Homo sapiens: one gene and its partners. The protein of the gene in region 5 purifies or fractionates together with the protein of the main gene of each other region. This does not show direct contact. Each region holds a gene or a part of one and is shown on either strand. Other genes may lie near its edges. The genes, in order: TIPRL, TSNAX, EIF4B, CAPZA1 and ACOX3.

The links.
Region 1: the proteins of ACOX3 (region 5) and TIPRL fractionate together in Homo sapiens (co-fractionation; one large-scale study listed by BioGRID). This does not show direct contact.
Region 2: the proteins of ACOX3 (region 5) and TSNAX fractionate together in Homo sapiens (co-fractionation; one large-scale study listed by BioGRID). This does not show direct contact.
Region 3: the proteins of ACOX3 (region 5) and EIF4B fractionate together in Homo sapiens (co-fractionation; one large-scale study listed by BioGRID). This does not show direct contact.
Region 4: the proteins of ACOX3 (region 5) and CAPZA1 fractionate together in Homo sapiens (co-fractionation; one large-scale study listed by BioGRID). This does not show direct contact.

The regions. Positions count from the first base shown.
Region 1 is NC_000001.11:168,185,832-168,192,463, reverse strand, and holds part of TIPRL (TIP41-like protein), read right to left. Parts: intron 1,096-6,632; coding exon 964-1,095; intron 257-963; coding exon of another isoform or gene 236-256; exon of another isoform or gene 69-235; intron 1-68. UniProt on the Homo sapiens protein: May be a allosteric regulator of serine/threonine-protein phosphatase 2A (PP2A). Isoform 1 inhibits catalytic activity of the PP2A(D) core complex in vitro. The PP2A(C):TIPRL complex does not show phosphatase activity.
Region 2 is NC_000001.11:231,557,279-231,563,910, reverse strand, and holds part of TSNAX (translin-associated protein X), read right to left. Parts: intron 2,784-6,632; coding exon 2,656-2,783; intron 1-2,655.
Region 3 is NC_000012.12:53,008,230-53,014,861, forward strand, and holds part of EIF4B (eukaryotic translation initiation factor 4B), read left to right. Parts: intron 1-6,632. UniProt on the Homo sapiens protein: Required for the binding of mRNA to ribosomes. Functions in close association with EIF4-F and EIF4-A. Binds near the 5'-terminal cap of mRNA in presence of EIF-4F and ATP.
Region 4 is NC_000001.11:112,626,332-112,629,831, reverse strand, and holds part of CAPZA1 (F-actin-capping protein subunit alpha-1), read right to left. Parts: intron 1-3,500. UniProt on the Homo sapiens protein: F-actin-capping proteins bind in a Ca(2+)-independent manner to the fast growing ends of actin filaments (barbed end) thereby blocking the exchange of subunits at these ends.
Region 5 is NC_000004.12:8,388,724-8,392,619, forward strand, and holds part of ACOX3 (peroxisomal acyl-coenzyme A oxidase 3), read right to left. Parts: intron 3,731-3,896; coding exon 3,610-3,730; intron 1,012-3,609; coding exon 889-1,011; intron 564-888; coding exon 450-563; intron 1-449. UniProt on the Homo sapiens protein: Oxidizes the CoA-esters of 2-methyl-branched fatty acids.

The DNA of each region.
Region 1 (6,632 bases), on a different chromosome or scaffold from region 5:
TCTGGAAAGTATTAGAGACCCAATTATAATGCAGTGGTAAAGAAATATGAATAACCATACTTGTTATGTGTGTTTTCTACTTCTTTTATTTTATTTTATTTTTTTTTTTTGAGACGGAGTCTTGCTCTGTCGCCCAGGCTGGAGGGCTGGAGTGCAGTGGTGCGATCTCAGCTCACTGCAAGCTCCGCCTCCCGGGTTCACGCTTCTCCTGCCTCAGCCTCCCGAGTAGCTGGGACTACAGGTGCCCGCCACCAGGCTGAAAATTGAAGTGGTAGTTGAATGATGCACTGAAATCATAACACATGGATCATTTTAAAAAATGACATCCACCTTGCCGTCTGCAGATCCTATCAACATCATTTTTAATCCAAAATGTGAAAATTAAGCCACAGTCTTCATTAGAGTTAAATAATAAACAAATAAACTACAAGGTGGCCAGGCAGGTCTATTAAAAATGCTTTGCTAAAATAAAGCCTTAAGAATACACAAATATTTTGTGAATTTTATAATGGATATTCAATAAGATACACTCTAGATTCAAGTGAAATTGTACATGACATCATGTTAAAGCTCAGTGTTATTCTTTTTTTTTTTTTTTTTTTTTTGCTCTGTCGCCCAGGCTGGAGTGCAGTGGCGTGATCCTGGCTCACTGCAAGCTCCGCCTCTTGGGTTCACGCTACTCTCCTGCCTCAGCCTCCCGAGTAGCTGGGACTACAGGCGCCCGCCACCATGCCCAGCTAACTTTTTGTGTTTTTAGTAGAGACGGGGTTTCACTGTGTTAGCCAGGATGGTCTCGGTCTCCTGACCTGGCGATCCAGCCCGCCTCAGCCTCTCAAAGTGCTGGGATTACAGGCGTGAGCCACCGCGCCCGGCCAGGCTCAGTGTTATTCAAAGTGAGTCATATTTTTGTCTGATGTTAAGAATGCAAGAAAAATATTAATTTTAAATAAAAATAATACTCACAATCTTCACACTCAGGCTTGAAACTCCATGATCATGAAGTTCATCCTCAAAAAGGAGAACTTCTTCAAAAAACTTAATCTGTTCTCTGGCTTTCAATTTTTCTGTATCTATATGATCTGTTGTAGGTACAACCTGAAAGAAAAAATTTTAAAGAGGAGCACATTAAAAAAAAAGTTGAGGAGCTACAGAGACACAGGAAAGCAGTCTTTTCTTTTCTTTTTCAATCAGTCTTTTCTACATAGCCAGAGCACACAGTTCTAAATTTGGGTGTCATTAGTAGATATAAAAGATCAGAATATGGCTTGATTCTGAAAACTGAAGACATTACAGATGCCCAATATTATAGCTTCACAAAAAAAGCAGTAAAAATTTATCATTTTTCATGCAAGTCATATTAAAATCAACTTCTGTTGTGACTATGAGAAAATTAATCAACTAAACATCAGTCAGTGTGATGAACGACTGCTATCATAGAAGGTCATAGAACATTTGTGCTGTGAAAGCCACTTTTAGGACATTCATATGGAACTTAAAAAATATTTTTCCATTAGAATGTTAGATATTTGCTCAACCTAACTCCCCAAAACCTACAACAAAATAAAGTGCTTTAAATAATGAGGTAAACAAGAACTTGTAGAGAAATTCTGAGGGAAACTCTTAGCATTGCAAAGAGCTTTGAATGAAGTTGGCAATTTTTCAAGGTATTATTTTGTAGCTCTAAGACATGCACACACGTAATCCAACAAAAGCATCAACAGTCCCAAGGCAGATCATATCAGGAGCTCATTAAACTCAAGTGTCTCCTGAGCAGCACCCAAGTATGAATTGTGATACTATTTTCTACCACACCTAATTTCACTACAAAATGCTCAGCTGTTTTACTCCTTGACAGGTTTACCATAAACAAACACAACAATGCTTGTCAAACCATAGATATTTAGTAAATGTAGCTTTACTTAAGCGTCATGATTAGGTGATTTGTTTTGACTCATGGACAAAATTAGCAGATGGAGAGTAATTTGAGATAACTAGATAAGAATCAGAAGAAAATTACAAAGGATGTTGTTTACAAGACTGCACAGATTTTGGGAGGAAATCTAAGGGAACGTTAAGTAATGTAGGGGGAAAAGATGCCATGAAAAGAAAGTGGCAGTTTGTATATGATTTCCAGGAGGTAAAAAAATGTCCATAATTCTTCCATGGTCACTTAGAGATAACACTTAGCCCTAAGCAGTTTTACTTCCAACTGTGTACGGAGCAGGTATAAGGCCACTCTTGAGGTGAAAACTGGGAGGGGAAGGGAGTTGGAGTGTAGGGGCAGGGCATATAACCAGTCCCCTGCATCACACATTAAGTTTATGATCTAGTTAAACAAAAGTTGGTCTGCCAACGAGGACTGCCTAAGGTTACACAACTGAAATTAGTGTTAAATACACACACTTGTAAATTTCGTCCTTTTTATTTGATTTTAGTTCAGAGGAACACATTTTTAACATCCTCCTTATAGATACTCCTGAATCCCCCAAAATTAATCATTATCTGAATTTTCTCATTAGTAAATTGCTTCATTAATGTTTCACATATGCCTTCAGTAAGTGATTGGTCAAAATGAATCTGTCAGTTTTTCCATTTACGTACTTGTTCTTATAAAATGAAAGACAAAGTCAAAAAACAAAGCATGAGTTAGAGATATCATATTTAACTTATTTATGCTATTGTCTCCATTTGCAAGGCTAAATATGTCTAAAACTTTATACTTTTCAGCTCTCTTCCTCAACTCCACATATCTCTCTCTGAACCCAGGGATCTAAAAAATACAACAAAAAAAAAATAACCAGCTAAATATAAAACATATGGGCTGGGCGCGGTGGCTTATGCCTATAATCCCAGCACTTTGGGAGGCAAGGCGGCCGGATCACTTGAGGTCAGGAGTTTGAGACCAGCCTAGCCAATATGGTGAAACCCCATCTCTACTAAAAATACAAAAACTAGCTGATCGTGGTGGCAGGCACCTGTAATCCCAGCTACTCAGGAGGCTGAGGCAGGAGAATCGCTTGAACCCGCGGGGCAGAGGTTGCAGTGAGCTGAGATCACACCATTGCACTCCAGCCTGGGCGACAAGAATGAAACTCTATCTCAAAAAAATAAAAAACATATGGAACAGTATTGGCAGAATAAGTAATCTAGACAAACCTTCTTGATGAAGACAATTTAAAAAGCTGGCTAAAAAAACCCAAAAACTTCCTAAAAGCATCAAATGGCCAAGGCAGTATGGAGTTACTGGGCTGAGATCTGGAAAGACTGGAGCCGAGAAAAGTAAGTCTGTACTTGGCTGGCTTTTGCCCTGAGGCATAGCACTGGCTGATCCAGAGAAGAAGCTGGGCTCTGCTAGCTTTTGGTGCCATCACTGCTCAGTGCTCACTAAGGACAAGGACCCTGGAGAATTTCCTGCTTCCTCCCAAATCAGAGATGACACCCTAAAGAGCTATAGTGATTTCAGAACTTTTTTTTTTTTTTCTTGAGACAGAGTCTCGCTCTGTTGCCCAGGCTGGAATGCAGTGGCACCATTTCAGTTCACTGCAACCTCCAGCTCCTGGGTTCAACCAATTCTTGTGCCTCAGCCTCCCAAGTAGCGAGGATTACACACACATGCCACAACGCTTGGCTAATTTTTTTGTGTTTTTAGTAGATACAGGGTTTTGCCATGTTGGCCAGGCTGGTCTCGAACTCCTGACCTCAGGTGTTCCGCCTGCCTCGGCCTCCTAAAGTATTGGGATTCAGGTATGAGCCACTGTGCCCAGCCTCAGAGCTTCTTATCTGCAGGCCCAGTACACCTCAAACTCTGGTCCTAGACCAAGGCAGGCAAACTAAGACATGCAGCTCACATCTGCCCTGTTACCTATTTTTATGGGCTGCAAGCTAATAATGGCTAAATAATTGGAGAAAAAAAATCAAAAGAAAAATATTTCATGACACATAAAAATTACATGAAATTCAAATTTCACTGTCCATAAAGTTTTATTAAAGCATAGCCATGCCCATTCATTTATATATTGTCTATGAGTGATTTAGACTATGATAGCACAGCTGAGTTGCTGCAACAGAGACTCTAAGGCCCACAAAGCCTAAAATATTTACGTCTGACTCTTTACAGAAGAAGTTTGCAGAGCTCTGTCCTTGACTATGAATATTCTCGAGCGCCTGTCAGAACTAAACAAAAATCCTCTCTGAAGGAAAACACCATCATCCTAGAACTGAAATGAAAATAAAGAGGCAAATTAGAAGCCTAGATGTCATAACCCAGAACCAACTGAAATAAAAGACACTAGGGATTCCAGAGGTGATTGAAATTATTAGGCCTTAGTCCATTTGGGCTGCTATTTAATATAATAATATACCATAGATAATATATCTACTTTTATTCTAGGTATTACAATATTAACTTAGGTTCCCTAATACTTGATATACTATATTATCATAGTAACAGCTGCCATTTATTGAGATCTTACTGCAAAACACACACTGTTTTGAGATAGGGTGTCGCTCTGTCACCCAGGCTGGAGTACAGTGGCACAATCACAGCTCACTGCAGCCTCGCCTTCCTGGGCTCAACTGATTCTCCCACCTCAGCCTCCTGAGTAGCTGGGACTATAGACACGTGCCACCAGACCCGCCAATTTTTCTATTTTTTGTAGAGATGGGGTTTCACCATGTTGCCCAGACTGGTCTTGAACTCCTGAGCTCAAGTGATCCATCTCAGCCTCCCAAAGTGCTGGGACTACAGGCATGAGCCACTACACCCAGCCTACATACATAATTTTATTTCCTACTTCACAACTAGTATTACCCTAGTTTAACAAAGTGACTGAAACAAGGCTAAGTAAGACTAAATTACTTTTCCAAGCTGGCAAATGATGGTGCTGGGATTTTGAACCCAGATCTGTGTTTTGCCAAAGCCTGAGCTCATTACCACCAGTGAGTGGGTAATCACATTGACATTTATCAGCAACACCTCAGAACAAATCACATTATAGGCTGAAGTATCAATAGGAGAGTACTGAACAAATGCTTTTTGCCTTCTACTACTCTCACACTCCTTGTTTGTACAGCTGTGGTTCTCACTTGGTCACACCTAATGCTGCTTCATAACCTCCAGGAGGCTTTTCCTAAGTCAGTCCACAAAGTAAGTCATCATCATTATTGTATGGGTTTAAAACAAGTTCCCATTTCCTCACTCCTGGCAATGAAATATTAAATGGTCTCTACAAAGTTTTTCAATCAGAAGAGAGGAGGGAGGAGAACACTAATCTATGAAGTAGTATAAGGGACTAAAATAACCTTGCTCTCCCATTAGACTGTAAAGGAGGAATTTTTGTCTGCTCTGCTGTATCCAAGGCTCCTAGCATTAGTGCCTGGCATAGAGCAAGAGCTCAAGAAATATCTGTTGAATGAATGAATGAGTTTTTTCCTGGAAGCACAGAAAAATAGTTAAAGCTTGGACTGTAATAATAGCAGAAACTGAAGATAACAATCATTAAGTTCCTGCTATGAACTTTTATCTTCATGAGACTCTAAAAATTTCTGCAGAGAAAAGGGGCCCAGACACAACACTATCTTCTTAACATTTCTGCCTAAGCACCAACATATGATATCAGGTTTCCTTGTTTTGAGATGGAGTCTCACTCTGAAGCCCAGGTTGGAGCACTGTGGCGTGATCTTGGCTCACTGCAACTCTGCCTCCTGGGTTCAAGCAATTCTCCTGCCTCAGCCTCCCCAGTCTCCAGCTCCTAACCTCAGGTGATCTGCCTGCCTCGGCCTCCCAAAGTGCTGGGATTACAGGTGTGAACCACTGTGCCCGGATGACATAGGGTTTCCAATAGCTACTTTTAATATAAATATTTCAGGTTACGCTGAAATAAATTCATTCTATATAATAGTCTGTGATATTTAGAGACATTCAACCTAAACCAAATTTGCTTTATTTTATTTTACTTATTGTTTTTCTGAAACAGAGCCTTTCTCTGTTGCCCAGGCTAGAGTGCAGTGGCGTGATCTCGGATCACTGCAACCTCTACCTCCTGGGTTCAAGTGATTCTCCTGCCTCAACCTCCCAAGTAGCTGGGATTACAGACACACGCCACCAGGCCTGGCTAATTTTTACATTTTTAGTAGAGGTGCGGTCTCACTATGTTGGCCAAGCTGGTCTCGAACTCCTGACCTCAAGTAATCTGCCCTCCTTGGCCTCGCAAAGTGCTGGGATTACAGGCGTGAGCCATTGAGCCCAGCCCAGATTTGCTTCCTTTCAGTCATACTATAAGATTTCAAAATGCAGCTAACTTCACAATATAAGACCTACCAATTCCATCTTCCTAGCGTTATTTACCATGAATCTCTCTCTTTTTTTTTTTTTTTTTTTTTTTTTTTTTGAGACGGAGTCTCGCTCTGTCGCCCAGGCTGGAGTGCAGTAGTGTGATCTCAGCTCACTGCAACCTCTGCCTCCCGGGTTCAAGCAATTCTCCTGCCTCAGCCTCCCGAGTAGCTGGGACTACAGGCATGCTCCACCATGCCTGGCTAAATTTTGTATTTTTAGTAGAGATGGGGTTTCACCATGTTGACCAGGCTGGTGTTGAACTCCTGACTTCATGATCCACCCACTTTGGCCTCCCAAA
Region 2 (6,632 bases), on a different chromosome or scaffold from region 5:
AATCACAACTGCAGAGTCTGTACCGCTACAAATTACTCTCCAATCCTTTTACTTATCATTAGATGGTTCTCTTTCCAGCCTCTTCAAACACAATTTCAAACCTTTCACCACTCTCCTCAGGGCTCTACTCAAATCCCAAACCTCTTCACTTTCAGTAGACAACCTTGCCCAATTTCAGTGACCTGGTCATTTGCCAGCTTACCTAGCACAATTTCTCACAACTGCCTTTATCCCTACCAAAAAAAAAAAAAAAAAAAATTTATATCCACACCCATCTTTACCTTCTATCCTCCAGTCTCAGATGATGAGTTGTCCCTCCTCTTGTTTGAGGTTAACTCTTCCAAATGACCTTGACCCATCTCCTCCCACCTCTTCCAGGACCTTGCTTCATAAGGTGTATGCCCTTGGGCAAGTTATTTCATCTCTCTAAACCTCAGTTTCCTCATCTGTAAAATGGGATAACAGTACCTACCTCAGAGGTTTATTTTAAGGGTTAAATGAGAACATTTACCAAGTTCTTGGCATAATGCCCAACACAAAGTAAATATTCAACAAATGCTAGCTGCTATCATGATATCATCATGAAATCTCTCTCCACATCAATTTCCCTCTACTGAATTCTTTCTGGTAGAGACGATGCCTAAATTGTTATTAAAAGACGGTATGTATAAAAGGGTAGGTGAAGTTGCAGTTACATCAAAGGACATTTTAGGTAGTGGGAACTACAAAGGCATACAGGTAAGAATTGTGCATTTGAGGAACTAATGAGATAATTCTTTTGAGTAAAGTTTAAAGGAAGTTACATAAATATAAGCTGAGACAAGGGAGACAGCTTTATTAAGATCACTCTTTGCTATGTATCTAATACTTGAATCCTAGCACTGTTTGGACTCTGCAGAGACCATTTGGTGCAACGTCCTCATCATTTAGCATGAGAAATGAGGTCCGAGAAACATCACAGGTAATATGACGTTGAGCTATGGGAATATGATAGCTAGTTAGTGGCACTAATGTTTCCATTCTATTTTTCTGCATGTTTGAAATTTTTCACAAAACTTTTTAAAATAAAAATTAAATAGTTTTGACAATATTCTCAACAGGCAAGTCAGAGCAAAATACCTTTCCCAATCAAATTCCCAGAAATTTCAGCACCAAGCATCTTTAGCACTAAAACTTATTTATGAACATAGTCTTATACAATTTGAAACATGTATATGAATATTATAGCCCCATAATCTTAAAATAATCTGGTACCTAAGTCCTGAAAACAGTACTTTGACTCTCAATTTTCTGGCCTTTTCCCCAATATTTTCATTTTGATACACAGAGAACTTTAAAGGAAAGTGTGGTAACTTCCCTAATATCACGTGAGAAGCAGGGTCAAATAGACCTACTTTACTTCTTTGTGTAATTCAGTCTACACTATATGAATAAAAAATATGAAGAAATTTTACTTCTCAAAATAAATTTCCTCCTTAATACACTTCATATAACTTAAAGTTAATACATGGCTTCCTTAAAGTAAGTTATACCTGTCATGCCAAATTAGTCTCATTTGTATTAATATTTTAGTTGATATTCAAGAAAATATTATTTCTACAGTGTCTTCCATCTCCTGCCTACCTATCCTTAATATATGGTGTTTTTAAAAATAATTTTTAAAAGAAAAAATAAAGAAAATTTTTAAAATAATTAAATATTTAATATTTAGTAAATTAAATTAATAATTTAATAATTTAATATTTAAACAATTATTTAAATAATATAAATTATTTTAAAATATTTAATTTTAAGTGTACTGGTATCTCAGAAAGTATCAAATAGTCAATACAGCTTACCTTACTGCCTGTTATATCTTGAAACCCAGAAGGAAAAAAATAGTATTTGTTTAAAAGTCAAACTGCAAAGTTTTTCTTAATTCAGAAAAGCTACATAAATTTCAGATATAAGCATTATGAATTGAGTAAATGATTAACAGCTCTCACTATATAAAAACTACTTTATAATGGCAAACTACTGAGCACTTCCGTGTCAGGTGCTGTATATAATGTATATTACGTGTCAGGTGCTGCTGTATATTGCCTAATTAATAACCTTTAAGTCAAATCCTTTAAAACAACCCTTTGAGGTAGGTACCTGATGCAAGGGATCCCTGTAGCACACTGTGAGAAGCGCTGGCAGAGTGGACAAGGGCACAGGCTTGGATTCAAAATACCTAACTTCAAATCTTAGCTCTGCCACACTTTTTAGTTGTGGCTTCTGGCAAGTTACTTAACCTCTCTAAAAGTCTGTTTCTTTCTCTGTAAAATGAGAGTAATAATGCTTACCACATATGGTTAATAAAAGGATTAAATAAGACAGTGCTTACAAAGGGCAAGTGAAAAATAGAGAGTAAAACCAAAAGAGGACTTACAGTAAGCACTCCATAATGCTTTAGGTAAAGAGCATTACTTTCCCAATATGCCCAGAGTTGTTCTTGTTCTATCCACTAACTGAAATATTTAAAAAGACCATTTCCTAGTTGAGACTCTACAAAACCATACTTTAGAAAGAACATTCCCATCTCAATCTTAGCATAAGCCAGTAAATCTACTAGAATCGTCATACTGTTACATAAATTATATAACAAATGTGAAATAAATTTTAAATTCTCACAGTTTTATTTTCTTTCCCATTGTCTTCAGTCGTAAATATCAATTGTTTATTAATTTCATCCATACTAATTAATGATCGTGTTTTGATGAAGTGTTGAAAAGAGACAGCTTCCACATATTCCTGTAGTCCTGAAAGCGTGACAAAGAAAATTACTAAGAATAAGCACTTAATTAGTAAGAATGTCATAATAAAAAAACTTCATATTGATCATCATCTAGTTCAAAAAAAAGCTTAATGGATGCCTACTACAATGCCAGTACTAGACTAGACACTTAGAATAGAAAGAATGGCCTGGGGACCAGGCGCGGTGGCTCACGCCTGTAATCCCAGCACTTTAAAAGGCCAAGGCGGGTGGATCACTTCAGGTCAGGAGATGGAGACCAGCCTGGCCAACACAGTAAAACCCCAACTCTACTAAAAATACAAAAATTAGCTGGACATGGTGGCGGGCGCCTGTAATCTCTGGGCCACTGTGCCCAGCCAGAAAAAAAATTTTTTTAAGAGTTTAAGTAATTAGGATTTAAGAAAAGCTTATTCTGGCCGGGCACGGTGGCTCACGCCTGTAATCCCAGCACTTTGGGAGGCTGAGGTGGGCGGATCACCTGAGGTCAGGAGTTTGAGACCATCCTGGCCAACATGGCGAAACCCCATCTCTACTAAAAATACAAAAAATATTAGCCGGGTGTGGTGGCAGGAGCCCGTAATCCCAGCTACTCGGGAGGCTGAGGCAGGAGAATCGCTTGAACCCAGGAGCCGAAGGTTGCAGTGAGCCAAGACCGCACCATTGCACTCCAGCCTGGGGGACAAGAGCGAGACTTCGTCTCAAAAAAAAAAAAAGGGGGGGGGGGGAGAAAAGAAAAGCCTATTCCATAATTTTGATAGGCTTTAATAAAAATTATATAAATTAATTTGTTTTATTTTGCTGGGTAACGAAGCAATGATTCAAACAAATGAGACATAAAATTAAGAATCATTTGGGCCGTTCACGATGGCTCACGCCTGTAATCCCAGCACTTTGGGAGGCCCAGGCGGGTGGATCACGAGGTCAGGAGATCCAGACCATCCTGGCTAACATGGTGAAACCACATTTCTACTAAAAATAAAAAAACTTAGCCGGGCGTGGTGGCGGGCGCCTGTAGTCCCAGCTACACAGGAGGCTGAGGCAGGAGAATGGCGTGAACCCGGGAAGCAGAGCTTGCAGTGAGCCAAGATCATGCCACTGCACTGCGGCCTAGGCGGCAGAGCGAGACTCGTCGCAAAAAAAAAAAAATAATAATAATAATAATAATAATTTGGATCTTTCTTAAAGTTTTAATAGGCAAAATCACTTTTAACTAATGTAGGTAAGTGTCAAAATACCGTTTATCTTTTCATAGTTCAAAATGGATCTAAGACTAGATAACTCCTTTCTGCTTTGGTAGTTTAAGAAAAAAAAAAGAGAGCTATGCAATACAATTTTGTACAAGACAGAAACAACCCTTGAATTGAAGAGTAAATTTTGGTAAAGATCAAAATGTAACTTAAATACTTTTAAAAATGTTTATATAAATGTAAAGGGCACAAGTGCAATTTTGTTACATGTCTACAGTACTATACTTTTCCAAGTGTTTTAAAACAACTACTTTCTGGCCGGGCGCCGGTGGCTCACACCTGTAATCCCAGCACTTTGGGAGGCCAAGGCCAGCGGGTCACGAGGTCAGGAGATCGAGACCATCCTGGCTAACATGGTGAAACCCCGTCTCTACTAAAAACACAAAAAATTAGCTGGGCATGGTGGCGGGTGCCTGTAGTCCCAGCTACTTTGGAGGCTGAGGCAGGAGAATGGCGTGAACCCGGGAGGTGGGGCTTGTAATGAGCCGAGATTGTGCCACTGCACTCCAGCCTGGGCAACAGAGCAAGATTCCATCTCAAAAACAACAACAACAACAACAACAACAAACTATATTCTATAGCCACAATTTTCAATATTATTTGATGTCTTAATCTGAAAGGTGATACAGGGAAAAAGCATTTCTTAATTATTATTGTTAGTTTAAGAAACTTTTTAAAGGTTTGTTGTAAAAATAGCAAGAGAATACATTTCTGATTATGCAAAGAAAACTCAGAACTTAAGAGGATATTTAAGTTCTCTAACATTTTTTATGACAGAGTCCTGCTACTCACAAGTCTCCCCCACCTGCCACTACACTTCTGGTATGGCAGCAACAGTGTTGGGGAGGCTAACAGCTGTAGTATCATCACATCAAATGCCAGGCAAAGGTCCAGGATACAAGGGAAAATGGGTGACCCTGGTTTTGATAGCACTAAGAGGAAACTTAACTAAATGAAAATATCCTGACTCATTCTGAGCTGCAAATGATGCCCAAATATAGGTCAGAAGGGACAATTTAACAAACCATAATGTTCTGAGAAATTAAACATTAACGAGGTTAAGTTTAACAAAACAGATGATGTCATTTATATTTATAATTAAAAATATTTTTAATTAAATGTTTAATTTTATGAATTTTTAGTTTTATGAATAGGTGACACCGCCCAGTTCCCCCCCAAAGAAAATCTCTATTTCTCATTTCCTTCTAAAGATACTTCATGCACACAAAAGCAAACAGCAAAACGTAAAGATGCATAATCACATCTCCATGCTCTAATGTGGTTAGCCTCTTATGAGCTAAACAAGAAGATATGCACAAAGATTTACATATAAGGATGTTTGTCACTACAGCAAAAAAAATTTTTTAAAGTTAAAAGACCAGTAATAGCTGTATCACTTGTCAATTTTTGTCTCTTAGTTCCATTATTTCAGAAGAAGGAGGTGGATACTTAAAGCATGTCTCCTATGCCAGCTGGCAATATATTAAGCTTTGTCAGTACAGGGTGCTAGGTGCTTAAAGAACTGTAAAGAGCTCTCTGCCTGGTTCTGCTGTGCCCCTCTTCACAGCCCTGAGTATGGGGCAGCCAGCACTTCAAGGTGGCCAACAGCATGTAGCACCTGCCTGGGGACAGCTTCTTTTGTACTCCAGAGAATGGCTTCCCAGTAAGCCACCTCCTTGGGCAGGGAATTCCTTTCCATGGCATTTCCCCATGGACAGCTTCCCAGAGAGTCCATCAGCACAACAGCTCAGCAAATGTCTCTGCCAGCCGATGGGACATGCCCACCCTCTCCAGCATGGTCTGGACCTCATCCTGTGAAGGGTGAGGGTTGGGTTCTGCCAAATTTAGTTCCTTGGGTGCTCTGCCTCCGCCCTAGGGGTAGTGGCTGCTCACTCTATCTGAGATTCCAGTACTCTTTAGAGTTCTCTTTTACTCTTATAATCCCCTATATGGTTAATAAGTCTGTATGTTGTATTTAACTTTCCCTGTTCATATTACCATCTAATTTCTGTTTCCTGTTTGGAGCCTGATGAATACAATAAGGAATTAGGAAAATAAATAATGGTATTACTTCTCCTTCAGCCCTACTACCTAGAGAAGGTGTTCCATTTTCTGTGGCTAGTCACTGTATTAGGTTCAGGATCAAGATTCAGTACCAGCTGGGAGCTTCACATGAATTCTCCCTTTAACATACTAGGTGTTCTCACTTTATGTTCTATACTGAATCTTACAGAAATACTGAAACACACTCAGATCTGTCCTATCCATGAACCCTATATTTCCTCTCAACTATTGCTCCATCTGTCTCCTCCTCCTCAGAGCTAAGTTTCTTGAAGTAGCTGGCTACATCATTTCCTCAATAACTTCATCTCACACTTCTCAACCTACTTCAATCTAGCTTGGGTACATCTCTAAAACAAAATAGTTCTTGCTAAGATTACCATAATAAATAAGACTAATGGACATTCTTTCCGTCTTCATCTCGGCAGCATTCAGCATTTTGTGCCACTTCCCCTCTTTGAACAAGTTTTCCTTTGATTCCTTTGACAGCATCATCTCCTGATTTCCCACTTTTCCACCTCTCTAGTCATGTCTTCTTAAGTCTC
Region 3 (6,632 bases), on a different chromosome or scaffold from region 5:
TGTCCTTCGTTTTACCGAGTTGAGGGAAATCCAGACTGATAAAAGGGATTTACTCTGACGTCCCATTCTCTTGTTCTTCCATATTTACTCTACCCCCTTGAAAACCCTCATCTCCTTTAATTCACTTCAGTAAATCTTTTTAGCTGGTACTGGTATCTGAGCACAAGTCACATCTTTCAGTCTGTTCTTGAGGAATCTGGGGTTTATCGGATTGTTTCCCCGCTCCTCTTTCCAGTCACACTGGCTTTGTGAAGTAACCAGTATTCCCTGATGTGGGAAATGGATGTTATGTGTTCTGTGTGAAAATACATAAAACAACTTCATACGCCTCTTTTACTGTTAAATGAGACCAAAAAATTCTTTGCAGCAATACCAGTTTCCAGTGTGATCCATTATTGACCTTCAAGAACTAAGGTAGGTCTCAGAACTAACTATAGAATGAGGATAGTTTGAATTCCTAGAAACTTGATACATTGAGCCAGTACACTTAATTCCTTGCTTTGCTTCTTAAAAAGAATTCTTAAAGGCCGGGCGCGGTGGCTCACGCCTGTAATCCCAGCACTTCGGGAGGTCGAGGCGGGCGGATCACTAGGTCAGGAGTTGGAGACCAACCTGACCAACATGGTGAAACTCTGTCTCTACTAAAAATACAAAAATTAGCTGGGCGTGGTGTCGCGTGCTTGTAATCCCAGCTACTCCGGAGGCTGAGGCAGGAGAATCGCTTCAATCTGGGAGGGGGAGATTGCAGTGAACCGAGATTGTGCCATTGCACTCCAGCCTGGGCAAAAGAGCAAGACTCCATTTCAAAAAAAAATCTTAAAAATACGAAGTTTTTCATTTTTCTTAAATTTTCATTGTGACTACTTTAGTAGACTTGCCAGTAATAAGCCAGTTACCGCTTGAATCTCAGTTTCTTTATCTGGAAAGTGGTCATTATTTATCTGCTGTCCCCTTACCTAGAGGGAATCAAATGCGTTTGATACAGGTTAACATTTAAAATGCTTTCAAATTGGGCAGGGTGCAGTGGCTCATGCCTGTAATCCCAGCACTTTGGGAAGCTGAGGTGGGTGAAACACCTGAGAACAGGAGTTCGAGACCAGCCTGGCCAACATGGTGAAACCCAGTCTCCACTAAAAATACAAAAATTAGCGGGGTTTTGGGCTGGGCGTGGTGGCTCACGCCTGTAATCCAGGAGGCAGAGGTTGCAGTGAATTGAGATTGCACCACTGCCCTCCGGCCTGGGCGACAGAGCGAGACTCCGTCTCAAAAAAAAAAAACAAAAACAAACTTTAAAATTGGAAATAACATATGTAAGCTCATGCACAGGCCTTTCATTTCCATAATGCTTCAAAATGCAGTCCTGTGTGACATCTTATTTGATTATTTTTATAGGGAGAAGATGCTCTGCAGTGGTTGTTTTCATACACTGCTGACTCTCACAGTGAAATGGTTTTAAGGGGTGCCATTATATATTGCTTACAGATTCCCTAGTGTCAAGTTCCATCCTCTATCATGTATATGTTATTCTGTGAGTAAGATACCCAGAAGGCCAAAATTAAAACTCTTTATGAAAGTTTAAATACAAATACAGAATAGTGTCAATTAAGATAAAGCAGTGTTTCTAAGTAATGTCATTGAAAAAAGAGGTATATTTCATCTCAAAACATTCTGGAATTCTCTTTTCGTGATGGTAGAGGAAATAACTGAACTTGAGTACAGTATTTTAAGTAATTATTTGTAATTAGGTTTGCCTTATGTACATTTATGAGCCAGTTTCTTAAATTTGTAGTAGATACTGCTATGGTCCTGATAGTGGGAAAGTACCAAATCAAGAAGTTTAACTTGAATTTGTGTACCTCCTGTCTCCCATTTTGTGTAATGGTTAGCATGGCATGCATTGGGCACTTATTTTGTTTGATTATGTATATGATCAAATTGAGTATCCCTGGAGGGATAAGGAAAAGGTAGTATGGCATCTTCTGTCAAAATGAAGTAATTGGGCACAGAGAGGTCATGTAACTGAACCCGTACGGGGGTCAAGATGGTGGAGCTTATGAGTTTTGACTCAGTCTTTACTATGCTAAACTTACCCAATCCCCAACTAAATCAAAAGGTGGCTTGCACTGGGATCTTTTTGACTTTACAATGGGTTTATCCGGATAGTAAATGCATTTTTTTACTTGAGAAGGGTTTATCCTGACAGTCTCATCATAAGTCAGGGAGCATCTATATAGTGCAGTAAAGGTGAAGGTGAAATATTGTATTACATTGCATGAAATGTCTTTTCATGGCTGGGCTGTAAACACCAATATAATTAGTCTAATTCTAGGCACTCTGGGTGGATCGATTGTGTTTATGCAATGTTGTTGGTTTAGGGAAACATTTGTTATTCATTATTTAAAGTAGCTTTTGTTTTGTTTGTTTTTGTTTTTGTTTTGAGACAGAGTCTCACTATGGCTCAGGCTGGAGTGCAGTGGCGTGGTCTCAGCTCACTGCAATCTCCACCTCCTGGGTTCAAGCGGTTCTAGAGATGGAGTTTCACCATGTTGGCCAGGCTGGTCTCGAGCTCCCGACCTCAGGTGATCTTCCCACCTTGGCCTCCCGGAGTACTGGGATTACAGGCATGAGCCACCACACCTGGCCTAAAGTAGCTTTTAATTATGGAGAATGTGGCAGAACTCACTTTTAGTAACAGCTTTATTCAATGTAATTTGTATACCATAAAATTTACACTTTTAAAGTATACAGTTTGGACCGTGTGCAGTGGCTCACTCCTGTAATCCCAGCACTTTGGGATGCCAAGGCAAGAGGATCACTTAAGCCCAGGAATTCAAGACCAGCCTAAGTAACATAGTGAGACCACGTCTCTACAAAAAAAATTTTAAAAATTAGCCAGGGGTGGTGGCATGTACCTGTGGTCCCAGCTACTTGGGAGGCTGCAGTGGGAGGATTGCTTAAGCCCTGGAGGTCAAGGCTGCAGTGAGCCATTATCTCACTACTGTACTCCAGCCTGGGTGACAGAGCAAGACCCTGTATGATTTGGTGGGGTTTAGTATATTCAGAGATGTTCAACCATCATTATTATCTAATTTCAGAACCTTTTTATCACCCCCAAAGAAAAGTCCTTTATATAGGACTAACAATTCCTTTTCATTTATCTTTTTATTTATTGAAGTGAAACATCACTTAGAACATGGTTCTCAGCTAAGGGACAGTCTTTTCATCCCAAACCCTCATCCCACCCCAGAGCATTTGGCAGTGTCCAGAGACGCTTTTGGTTGTCAGAGTGGAATGGGGATCGGGGATTACTATTGGCATCTAATGAGCAGAATCAGAGATAACTGCTAAAATCCCCCCATGACAAATTACCTAAGCTAAAATATCAGCAGTGCTGAGATAGAGAAACTCTGAGTTAAGAAGTAGGCTGTATTTATTTTAGTATCTATTATAACAAATCCTGTTTATTAAGAAAACCATGAATGTGTTGTCTCTTGTTTAACGGCTTCTGGACTTAGCAATATTTCCGTTTTTAAGATCTTTTATTAAACCTGTATGGGTATATAAAGAGCTGGAGGTGTGTTTTCCCCACTGTAGACCATGTATAAATAATTGGGACAGGTTTTGTTTTGTGAGGTGATTGATTTGTTAACTTTTTAACCAGTTCACATAAGATTTAGAGAAAATTAAAGAATTGGACCAGTTCATTGTTGAATTGCAAAGGATTGATAAACCTGGAGCATTAAACAGTGCTTTACTTATAAAGCAGAGGGAACACTGTTGAAATCTAAACATGTAATGGGCCTAGGTATTGAGGGAGCAAAGGGCATGGAGGATTTAGATAACATCTTTTCTCAGTTAACTGGAATGAAACGGAGTGGAACAAACACGGGCACCTACTTTAGGTTTATTGATTTTGCTTTCCAAGGGCTAATTCCTTTAAACCTGCTGCTTATATTTTGACTGAGTCAGTGCTGCTGCTACAGTTAAATAAGTTGAAGATCTTGTAAGGAATTTTAGCCTGTTTTTTTAAGACTCATCTAACAGGTGGGGCGCAGTAGCTCAGGCCTGTAATCCCAGCACTTTGGGATACAGAGGCGGGCAGATCACCTGGGGTTGGGAGTTGGAGACCAGCCTGACCAACATGGAGAAACCCCATCTCTATTAAAAATACAAAATTAGCCAGGTGTGGTGGTGCATGCCGGTAATCCTCGCTACTTGGGAGGCTGAGGCAGGAGAATCGCTTGAACCCGGGAGGCGGAGGTTTCGGTGAGCCGAGATTCCACCATTGCACTCCAGCCTAGGCAACAAGAGCAAAATTTCTGTCTCAAAAAAAAAGACTTATCCAACAGTAATTTCTTTTTTTTTTCCTTTTTTTTTTTTTCTTTTTTTTGTGGGGGACGGAGTCTCGCTTTGTAGCCCAGGCTGGAGTGCAGTGGCACGATCTCAGCTCACTGCAAGCTCCGCCTCCCGGGTTCACGCCATTCTCCTGCCTCAGCCTCCCGAGTAGCTAGGACCACAGGTGCCCGCCACCATGCCCGGCTAATTTTTTTGTATTTTTAGTAGAGACGGGGTTTCACCATGTTAGCCAGGATGGTCTCGATCTCCTGACCTCGTGATCCACCCGCCTCGGCCTCCCAAAGTGCTGGGATTACAGGCGTGAGCCACCACACCCAACAGTAATTTCTTAACCAGAGGGCCTGGGAGTGGGTGGCAATCAGAGGAGGGGGAGACTTGTGATTTGAAAAGACATTCTAAGATTTAAAAGTGCTTTTAATATTTTTTAGTCATGATATTTAATTTGTTTGGAAATTTCAAATAACGTTAAAGAAGAAACTTGTTTGTCAAAGGAGTCAAGGGGTGAGAGTTGAGAAACTGTGATCTACAAAGTTGATTTAAGCCAAATCGGACTAAAGGGCAGATTAATTCCACATTCTGCTGTTTTGGTAGAAGATACGTATATAGAACAAAGAGGAAAGGGATACCTTATTCAGATTGTTAATGTTCTTTTGTTGAACTTGACCTTATTGTACTGACCACCAGTTCTGTTTTTATCCTCCCAGTGGAAGGACAGGTTAATAATTGGATATTAGCTGATGGTACTAGATTAAGCCCCATGAGGGTAAGGATCTGTAGCTAGCATCATATTAATCCCAGACACTATTTTTGAATTAAATGATATGAAAAAGTCTAAAATAAGCCCACGCACTGTAAGTGGTTTACCTCATGTCTTACTCGTGTTCGCTTATTAAAATCTCCCATAGATCTTTGCATATGAGGCTGGGCACAGTGGCTCATGCCTGTAATCGCAGCATTTTGGGAGGCCGAGGTGGGTGGATCATTTGGGGTCAGGAGTTTGAGACCAGCCTGGCCAACATGGTGAAACCCCATCTCTACTAAAAATACAAAAATTAGCCAGGCTTGGTGGCACATGCCTGTAATCCCAGTTACTCAGGAGGCTGAGGCAGGAGAATCACTTGAACCTGGGAGGCAGAGGTTATAGTGAGCCAAGATGGCGCCACTGCACTCCAGCCTGGACAAGAGTGAGACTCCCTCTAAAAAAAAAAAAAAACCTTTGCATATGAGCTGCAGCAATAAAAGTGCTATGAGACCCAACCTCTCTGTAACCGTATTCTTTGAAAGCTGTGGAATAAGGCCAAGTGCAGTGGCTCACATCTAATCCCAGCACTTTGGAAGGCTGAGACGGGTGGACCACTTGAGGCCAGGAGTTGAAGACCAATCTGGGCAGTGTAGCAAGACCCCTGCCTCTACAAAAAATTTTAAAATTAGCTGGGCATGGTGGTGCATGCCTATAGTCCCAGCTACTCAAGAGGCTACAGTGGGAGAATTGCTTGAGCCCAAAAGGTCAAAGCTGCAGTGAGCCACGATTGCACCACTGCAAAAAAAGAAAAAAGAAAAAGCAGGCCGGGCGCGTTGGCTCACGTCTGTAATCCCAGCACTTTGGGAGGCTAATCACGAGGTCAGGAGATCAAGACCATCCTGGCTAACACTGTGAAACTAAAAAAAAAAAAAAAATTAGCCTGGCGTGGTGGCACGCGCCTGTAGTCCCAGCCACTTGGGAGGCTGAGGCAGGAGAAATTGCTTGAACCTGGGAGGCGGAGGTTGCAGTGAACTGAGATCGCGCCACTGCACTCCAGCCTGTATGACAAAGCGAGACTCCGTCTCAAAAAAAAAAAAAAAAGCGTAGGATGGATTCAAAATGTGATCTGGTTGATCATAAACAATACTTTTGGAGCTGGATTAATATTAAGTCACTTGAGAGATACAGAAAATACCATGTTCGTGGTCAACTTTGATTATTTTAGCCGGGTTCATCTGGTTTGCACATTGAGACCGTAATACTTCAGGTTCTAATTGTGTCCAGAAGGCTATGTGTTAACATTCATAGCAAACTGGTTACCTTTATTTCCTGAAAGTTAAATTTTGAAAGAAAGGGATACCAAGTGAGAAAGCAACCTTCAGTTAAACAAAGGGGTACATCAAGTTTGATATTCTTGGATTAAAAATCAGGTGACAATTGGAACATGGAGGAGAAATTCATGATTATAAAAACCATGAAGCCAATCTTTTTTACAACAAAGCTGCTTGTTTTTTTCTTAATCATGTAGTGGCTG
Region 4 (3,500 bases), on a different chromosome or scaffold from region 5:
AAAGGTAGTGGGAAAACACTCTCTTGTTTGGTAGAACAGAGGATTTGGAGAGAATAAAAGAGAAGGATGAACTAAGGTAAGTCAGATAGCAGTAATGATGGTAATACCAAATCTGGTTTCATTCCGTATGTCATTGGCAATGGCCACTTGCTAAAGCTTTCTGAGGACAAAGCTCCATTAATAAAAATCTATCAGTAATACAGAAGTACTGGAGTCCTCAATATGGCCTCACAAAACTTGGAAATCAGACTGCCCTATGAGAGTTAACAATGAAATCAAGACAGATGCTATCCAAGCAAGATTCATGCATTCAACAAATATCAGAAGACCCACTATGTTTTAGGCAATGGTGACTCACTAGCATACTGTCCTCATGGAGTTTACATTCTAGTGGGTAAAGACAACAGAGAAGATTAAGTAAAATACTACCTGGCAAGTGATAAATGCTAAGGAGAAAAAACAAGGCAAAGAAAAGGGACAAGAAATGTTAGGATTTGCAACTGGACAGAATAACCAGAGAAAGCTTCACTAAGGAGATGACTTCTGGTTAAGTATCTGAAATGAGGGATACAGAAGGAAAAGAACTCCAGAGAAAAGAACAAATGCAAAGATTATTCAGCGAGAATACGTGATTGGAACAAAGACCAGAAGAAGAACATGTAGGAGATAAAGTCAGAGATAAATGGCAAAGAGGTAACATCCCAGAACATAGGGACTTAGAAAAAGATGGGAAGCCACCGGAGGGCTTTGAGCAGAAAAGTGACATGTACTGACCTACATTTTAACCAGATCACTCTGGATGCTTCATCGAGGACAGACTGCTGGGCAGGAGCAACAGCAGAAGCAGGGAAACCATAAAAAATAGTATTTTAATAATCTAGAGGTCACAATGGCTTCTTCCAGAGTGGTTAGAATAAGGGTGTGGTAAGAAATAGTCAAATTCTGGGTTTATTTTAAAGACAGAGCCTACAGGATTTACCAGTGGACAACAAGTGGATTGTGAAAGAAATAGTAGTCAAAGATAACACTAATGTTTTTGACCTGAGCAACTAAAGAATGGAAGTGTCATTAACCAAGGGCGGGCAGACTGTAGGAGAAGCTGCAGTATGCAAAATTTTGACACATAACCAGTCCTGCAAAACTCCCCTGCTAGTAATGTGATAACAAATGAACCTATCTAGAGGAAAAATGTCCAATGCTGTTATACAAAGACGTGACTTGGTTTTGGTGTTGGGTACATATGCCTATTATGAAACAAAATGCCATCAATACTTTGGACTATCTAGTTAACTTCCTTTGTTCTAATTCTATGCTCCATTAAAACATTCTAACTTGATTTCCCATGTTCCTGACCTATCTGAAAAAAAGAACTTAGTTCCTTCTATATGTATTAAATTGTTATTCCAGTTTTATACATTAGTTTCATAAGCCTAGCTAAAATGAGTTTATCCCCGAGAGAGACCTGGTTTAGTATCCTGATCAATCAAGCTTCTGAGCTAAATAAGCAGAGGACTAAGATTTGAACCACAGCAAGTTCACTAAGATAATGGTTCTCAAGTATTCCAATAATTATTGGGAGGCTTATTACAAATAATTCCTGACAACTGGTTCCAAAAAATTCTGATTCAATATACCTAGGATGGAACTCAGAAATCTGTTTTTGAAGGAAACACAGATTCTGCCATAGGCAAGGATGTTCTAAGATACTGTCATACTGTAAAGTTTCTCCTTGGCCTTGTTACGGGGACTTTAGTGATCTTTAAATTTCTAGAGCCATGTTTTTCAACACCTGTTTAATAACACAGCATAAATACTAGAACTCTTCACGGCATACTTAAGCTCAAAGAGCACTAAGCAACTTTTTTTTTTTTGAGACAGAGTTTCACTCTTGTTGCCCAGGCTGGAGTGCAATGGCGCAATCTTGGCTCACTGCAACCTCCGTCTCCTGGGTTTAAGCTATTCTCCTGCCTCAGCCTGCTGAGTAGCTGGGATTACAGGCATGCGCCATCACGCCCAGCTAATTTTGTATTTTTAGTAGAGACGGGGTTTCTCCATGTTGGTCAGGCTGGTCTCAAACTCCTAGCCTCAGGTGATCCGCCTGCCTCAGCCTCCCAAAGTCCCAAAGTGCTGGGATTACAGGCGTGAACCACTACGCCTGGCCCTTCTTTTTTTTTTTTTTTTTTTTTTTTTTTTTTGAGACAGAGTCTCGCACTGTCGGCCAGGCCAGGCTGGAGTGCAATGGCATGATCTCGGCTCACTGCAACCTCCTACTCTCAGGTTCAAGTGATTCTCCCAAGTAGCTGGGACTACAGGCGTGTGCCACTATGCTGGGCTAATTTTTGTATTTTCTCTAGAGATGGGGTTTCACTATGTTGCTCAGGCTGGTCTTGAACTCCTGGGTTCAAGTAATCCGCCTGCCTCAGCCTCCCAAAGTGCTGGGATTACAAGTGTGAACCACCGCACCTGGCCATTCAGCAACAATTATAATGCAATCAGGACCACAGAACACCAATGTTTCAGTGTCTATAAAGGCATCCAGGTTACTACATGATTAACTTGGTTGCTGTTTAGGACTATGTCATTATTTCATCAAAACTGCTTACTATCTTACTATCTACTTAAAGGAATCAAAATGGGTAAGAGCATAGGCTCTGACAGCAGACAACAGCATTGTATCCACTCTGCCATTTATTAGTTCTGGACACTTGGGTCATATATTTTAACCTCAAATGTGCCTGTGCCTCAGTTTACTCTACTGTAAAATGGGCATAAGTATCTGTCCTATAAGGATGTTGTGAGATAAATACATGGTTAATACATAGTTAGCACAAAAGAAGCACTTAAATGTTACCCAGATGTAAAACAAAGAATCCACAAAGCAAAGTTCTCTTACCACCTTCCTTTGCTACAGTCTGCCATTATGCTGTTTTCTTGTTTAAACAGTATGTTATACCATGACTACACTCAACAGAATTCGATCAATGTTCCATTTCACTGACACTGCCTTAACAATCTGTATGTGCAGTTGTACCAAAGATAAATTTTACACACTGCTCAAAATTTTGTAATACGTTATAGCTGTGAAGAATTTATGATAAACCAGGAAGGATGTATAAAGAAAGGAGAGGCCTGAGGCAGAGAGATAATTAAAAATGTTGTTAAAAATAATTCAAGCATAAAAAAAGGTCCTGAGTGAAAATAATGGTAGATGGAATGTGGACAGGTTAGAGATATTATTAAGTGAAAAGTGTGTCTGTATATGCATAGAATTAGAAAAGATACAAGAGGAATTGGTAATATTGGCTACTTGTCAGGGAAACTGGGTGGGTGGAAGACAGGGGCAGGAGGCGACTTTTTACTTGTGCCCTGTCCCACCATTTTAATTTTTTTTTTTTTTTTGGTAGAGACCGGGATCTCACTATGTTGCCCAGGCTAGTCTCAAACTTCTGAGCTCAAGTGATCGTCCCGGCTTAGCCTCCCAAAGTATTGGGATTACACGT
Region 5 (3,896 bases):
GGTGCGCCAGGGCGGGAAGGGGCATCTGCTGTTTGGGGAGCCAGCAGGGCCTGGGAGTGGGGAAGACTGACAGGTGAGGTGGCTGGGAGGGCCCAGGGACAGCAGCAGCCCAGGCACCAGGGCAGGGGGCAGAGGCTGCTTAGTGGACAGAGACCAGGCCAGGTGGCCTCTCACGCCCTTTATCCTATGGGAGGGAAAGGCAAGAGGCAAGGTATAAGGTGGCAAGTGGGCATCCTTCAATTCATCTGTGGAGTCAGCGCCTAACTCGGCGTCAGGCACAAAGAGATAGTCCATGAGCCAGCCCAGGACAAGCTGCATGCGGGGCCTCCCACCACCACTGCTGCCCCGGCTGGAACTGCCAAGGGTCCCCTCACCGAGGCACGGTGCGTTTCCTGGTGGGAATGACAGGAAATCAGGAGGCCAGGGGAGCCCTCCACCTGTGTGTTTACCTGCAGAGTCCAAGCAGTCGGCAACACTGGAGACCTCAAACTTCTGGTCAAGGATGCCGGGATAGGCGTCCAGAAAGTCCACTGACTTCAGCGGACTGCGGAAGCAAGCTCCATCTAGGACACACATTCCAGTGACTTTGGTGGAAGACAGGAACCCAAACCATTGGGAACCCCAAGCTGGGGGCACCCCAAAGCACAGAGAGTGTCCAGAGGACCCGACGGCCACAGACCCACAGGCGAGGGTCTGGGTCTCAAGGACCCTCCCCACCCCAGCCTTTGCCCATGCCTTGGGGAGTTGGTCGGCACTATCTAATAACATTTCTTTCCTTCTGCAAACCTAGGATGCATTCACAGAACAGCTGAATCAGTGAGGCCAGGAGAACCCACCCCTGCCCCAGTTGGGTTCCAGCGCCCCCACCAGTGTGCAGCAGAGCCTCACCGTGGACCTGGTGTGCCAGGAGACCCAGCAAATAGTTGCTTGTCTGCTGCAGCAGGATGTTGTTGTCACCTTCGTATGTGCAGTTGGGATCGTTGTCATCTCTAAGGACACCCAACCGGTTCACTGCAACAAAGCCACAATAGTACCATCATTTAAGACGCATATTTGAGAAGCAGCCTGTCACTATGTGAGAATTTAAAAAGCCTTAAGAGGCTGGGTGCGGTGGCTCACACCTGTAATGGCAGCACTTTGGGGGGCCGAGGCGGGTGGATCACTTGAAGCCAGGTGTTCAAGACCAGCCTGACCAACATGGTGAAACCCACCTCTACTAAAAATACAAAAATAGCCAGGTGTGGTGGTGTGTGCCTGTAATCTCAGCTACTCGGGAGGCTGAGGCAGGAGAATCGCTTGAGCCTGGGAGGCGGAGGTTGCAGTGAGCCGAGATTGCGCAACTGCACTCCAGCCCGGGTGACAGAGCAAGACCCTGTCTCAACAACAACAACAACAAAAAAAGCCATGAGTTTGAGACCAGCCTGGGCAACATAGTGAGACCCTATCTCTATAAAAAATGAAAAAAAAAATTAGCTGGGCATAGTGGCACGCACCTTTAGTCCCAGCTACCCAGGAGGCTGAGGTGGGAGGATTGCTTAAGAGCCCAGGCATTTGAGGCAAAAGTAAGCCATGGTCATGCCACTGTACTCCAGCCTCCGGGACAGGGCAAGACTCTGACCAAAAAAAAAAAAGCCCTGAACTCAGCTTGACCAGACACAAAGAACTGCCACCTGTGCTTCATATCCCACCTCCAGCTCCTCACTGCTGTCAGCAAGCCCTGCAGAGCCTCCCCTGGCATGGGGTTGCTGATAGGAGGGAGCCATCTCAGCGAGCTGATGCCCCCAGGGCTACCCTTCTTCCGTCCATAACTGAATGAACTCTTCTTTTAACACAGGAAATTTCAAGATAACTGTTTTTTGTCTTTCCTATCAGTTAGCTGGATGCCTTCACATATGTTGTCAGGCTTGCTTTCCAGACCCTCACACACTTGAGCCTGCCTACTGTGATGGAAAGTGTTCTCTGAATGTGAGGCTGGGATGGGCCTAGCAGGAAGGGAGTGGAGCTGACTTCTCACACTCACGTACTGTGACTGATGGATCCTGAGAGCATGAAAGGAGTCCTATTGCAGCCATACTGCCAACACGCTTGTGATTAGCCTTGTGATCACCTAGAACACCTGATTTTCTCCTGACTTACTGTCAAATCATGCCACGAGCTTCCTGCCACGTAACAGGTTGGCCACTGAACAAGAGCTGGGAGAGGCCTCAGCAGAAACATTTGCAATTGATTTTCTAAACCTAGATGGAGCCTCGGTCATATTGGTCTCAATCCCAGCATATGTATATGTATGTGTATATGTATATGTATGTGTATATGTATATGTATATGTATATGTATATGTATATGTATATGATTAATCTTGATTCCATCATCTTTGTTGTCTGCAGTACTGCAAGATTCAATTTCCTTATTCAACTATTTATAGAATCCCGATGAGTTACAAAGACAAAAACTACTAAGGGCATTGCGCAGAGGACAAAGCATGCAAATGAGTAACTTGTGTACAGCCATGGCTACCCGCATGTCAGTAAGTGACAAAGACAGATTGTGGTGGGAGTGAGGGGCCACGTTGCTAACAGCCCATGCTGGAACAGGTGCGAGTTAGAACTGCAGTGGTGGGCGGATGATCGCTGAAAGTGTGTGTGTAGTTCTAGATAGAGCATCACAAAAACTCTCACAAACTTGGCAAGGACCAAGTGCTCCTGGAGGGCAAGAGAGTTTTGCTGATGCTGTGGCTGTTTTGAGTGTGTACATGGCCTTCTTTGAGCAACCAGTTTTTGCCAGTTAATTATTTAAGATTAGCACACGGGAAGTTTTGCAGGTAAGCTGTAAATAATGCTGATGATAATTCTAATAATAACAGCATTAGCAAATAAAAAAGTCATTGGGCACGCACTACATGCCAGATACCATGCTTACACTTCATACGTGGTAATTCACTTAATTCTGGCAAGAACCTATGTTGTGGGTACACTATTATCACCCCCACTTTAAAAATAAGAAAACTGAGCACAGTGAGGTTAAGCAACCTGCCCACAGTTACCAGGCTGTTAGATGGAGCCAGGACTCAATCCCAGGCAAGCTGGTGGCCTCCGCTCTTAACCATATAACAGCTGCCTCAGTCATCATCAATGCCGATATAACTAACTCTTTATCTAAGTGTAAGAATTTTCTATTCAAACAAAACATGGTGCTAGTTTACTACCAAGCTGTTAACCAAATAGTTAAAATTCAAATGAGCAGATCAGCTGCTCTCTGCCTATATTTTGGCCAAGAAGCATCAGGCATCTGAAAGCAGTGGGATCTATCTAGGGCAGGGGTTGGCAAACTTGTTCTGCAATGGACCAGAGAGTAAATATTTTCAGCTCTGTAAGCCACATGGTCTCTGTCACAGCTGCGATTACTCATCTCTGCCCTTGCAGTGCGAAAACAGCTGCAGGAAATGTGCAAATGAACGGGGGTGGCTGGCTGTGTTCCAATAAAACTTTATTTGCAAAAACAGGTGGCAGGCTGGATTTGGTCCTCAGGCCGCAGTCTGCCGACCCCTGGTCTAGAGTCAAACAGCAGGGCTAAGGACAGGAAACCACCATGCGCTTCTCCAAAACCTACTGGCCAGATAGCCGTGTCCTCCACACGCCTCCCGGCATTCCTGAATTCCTTGCTGGGTGGTCCACGAGGCCAGGGGCTTGCTGGCCGATGCCAGGGCGTGGATCTCACGTCCAAGCTCTGCCTTTGGGTGAGGGAATCCAACAAGAACAGGTGAAAAGAGACTTTAGACACCAAAAAGTCATAAGTCAGCAATAGCATCAAACCACCATATCACCTCTAGTCTAATACAAGACATCCCGAAAATGACAGAAGAGGAAACCTAATTGTAATTAGAAATAAAAAAGGGT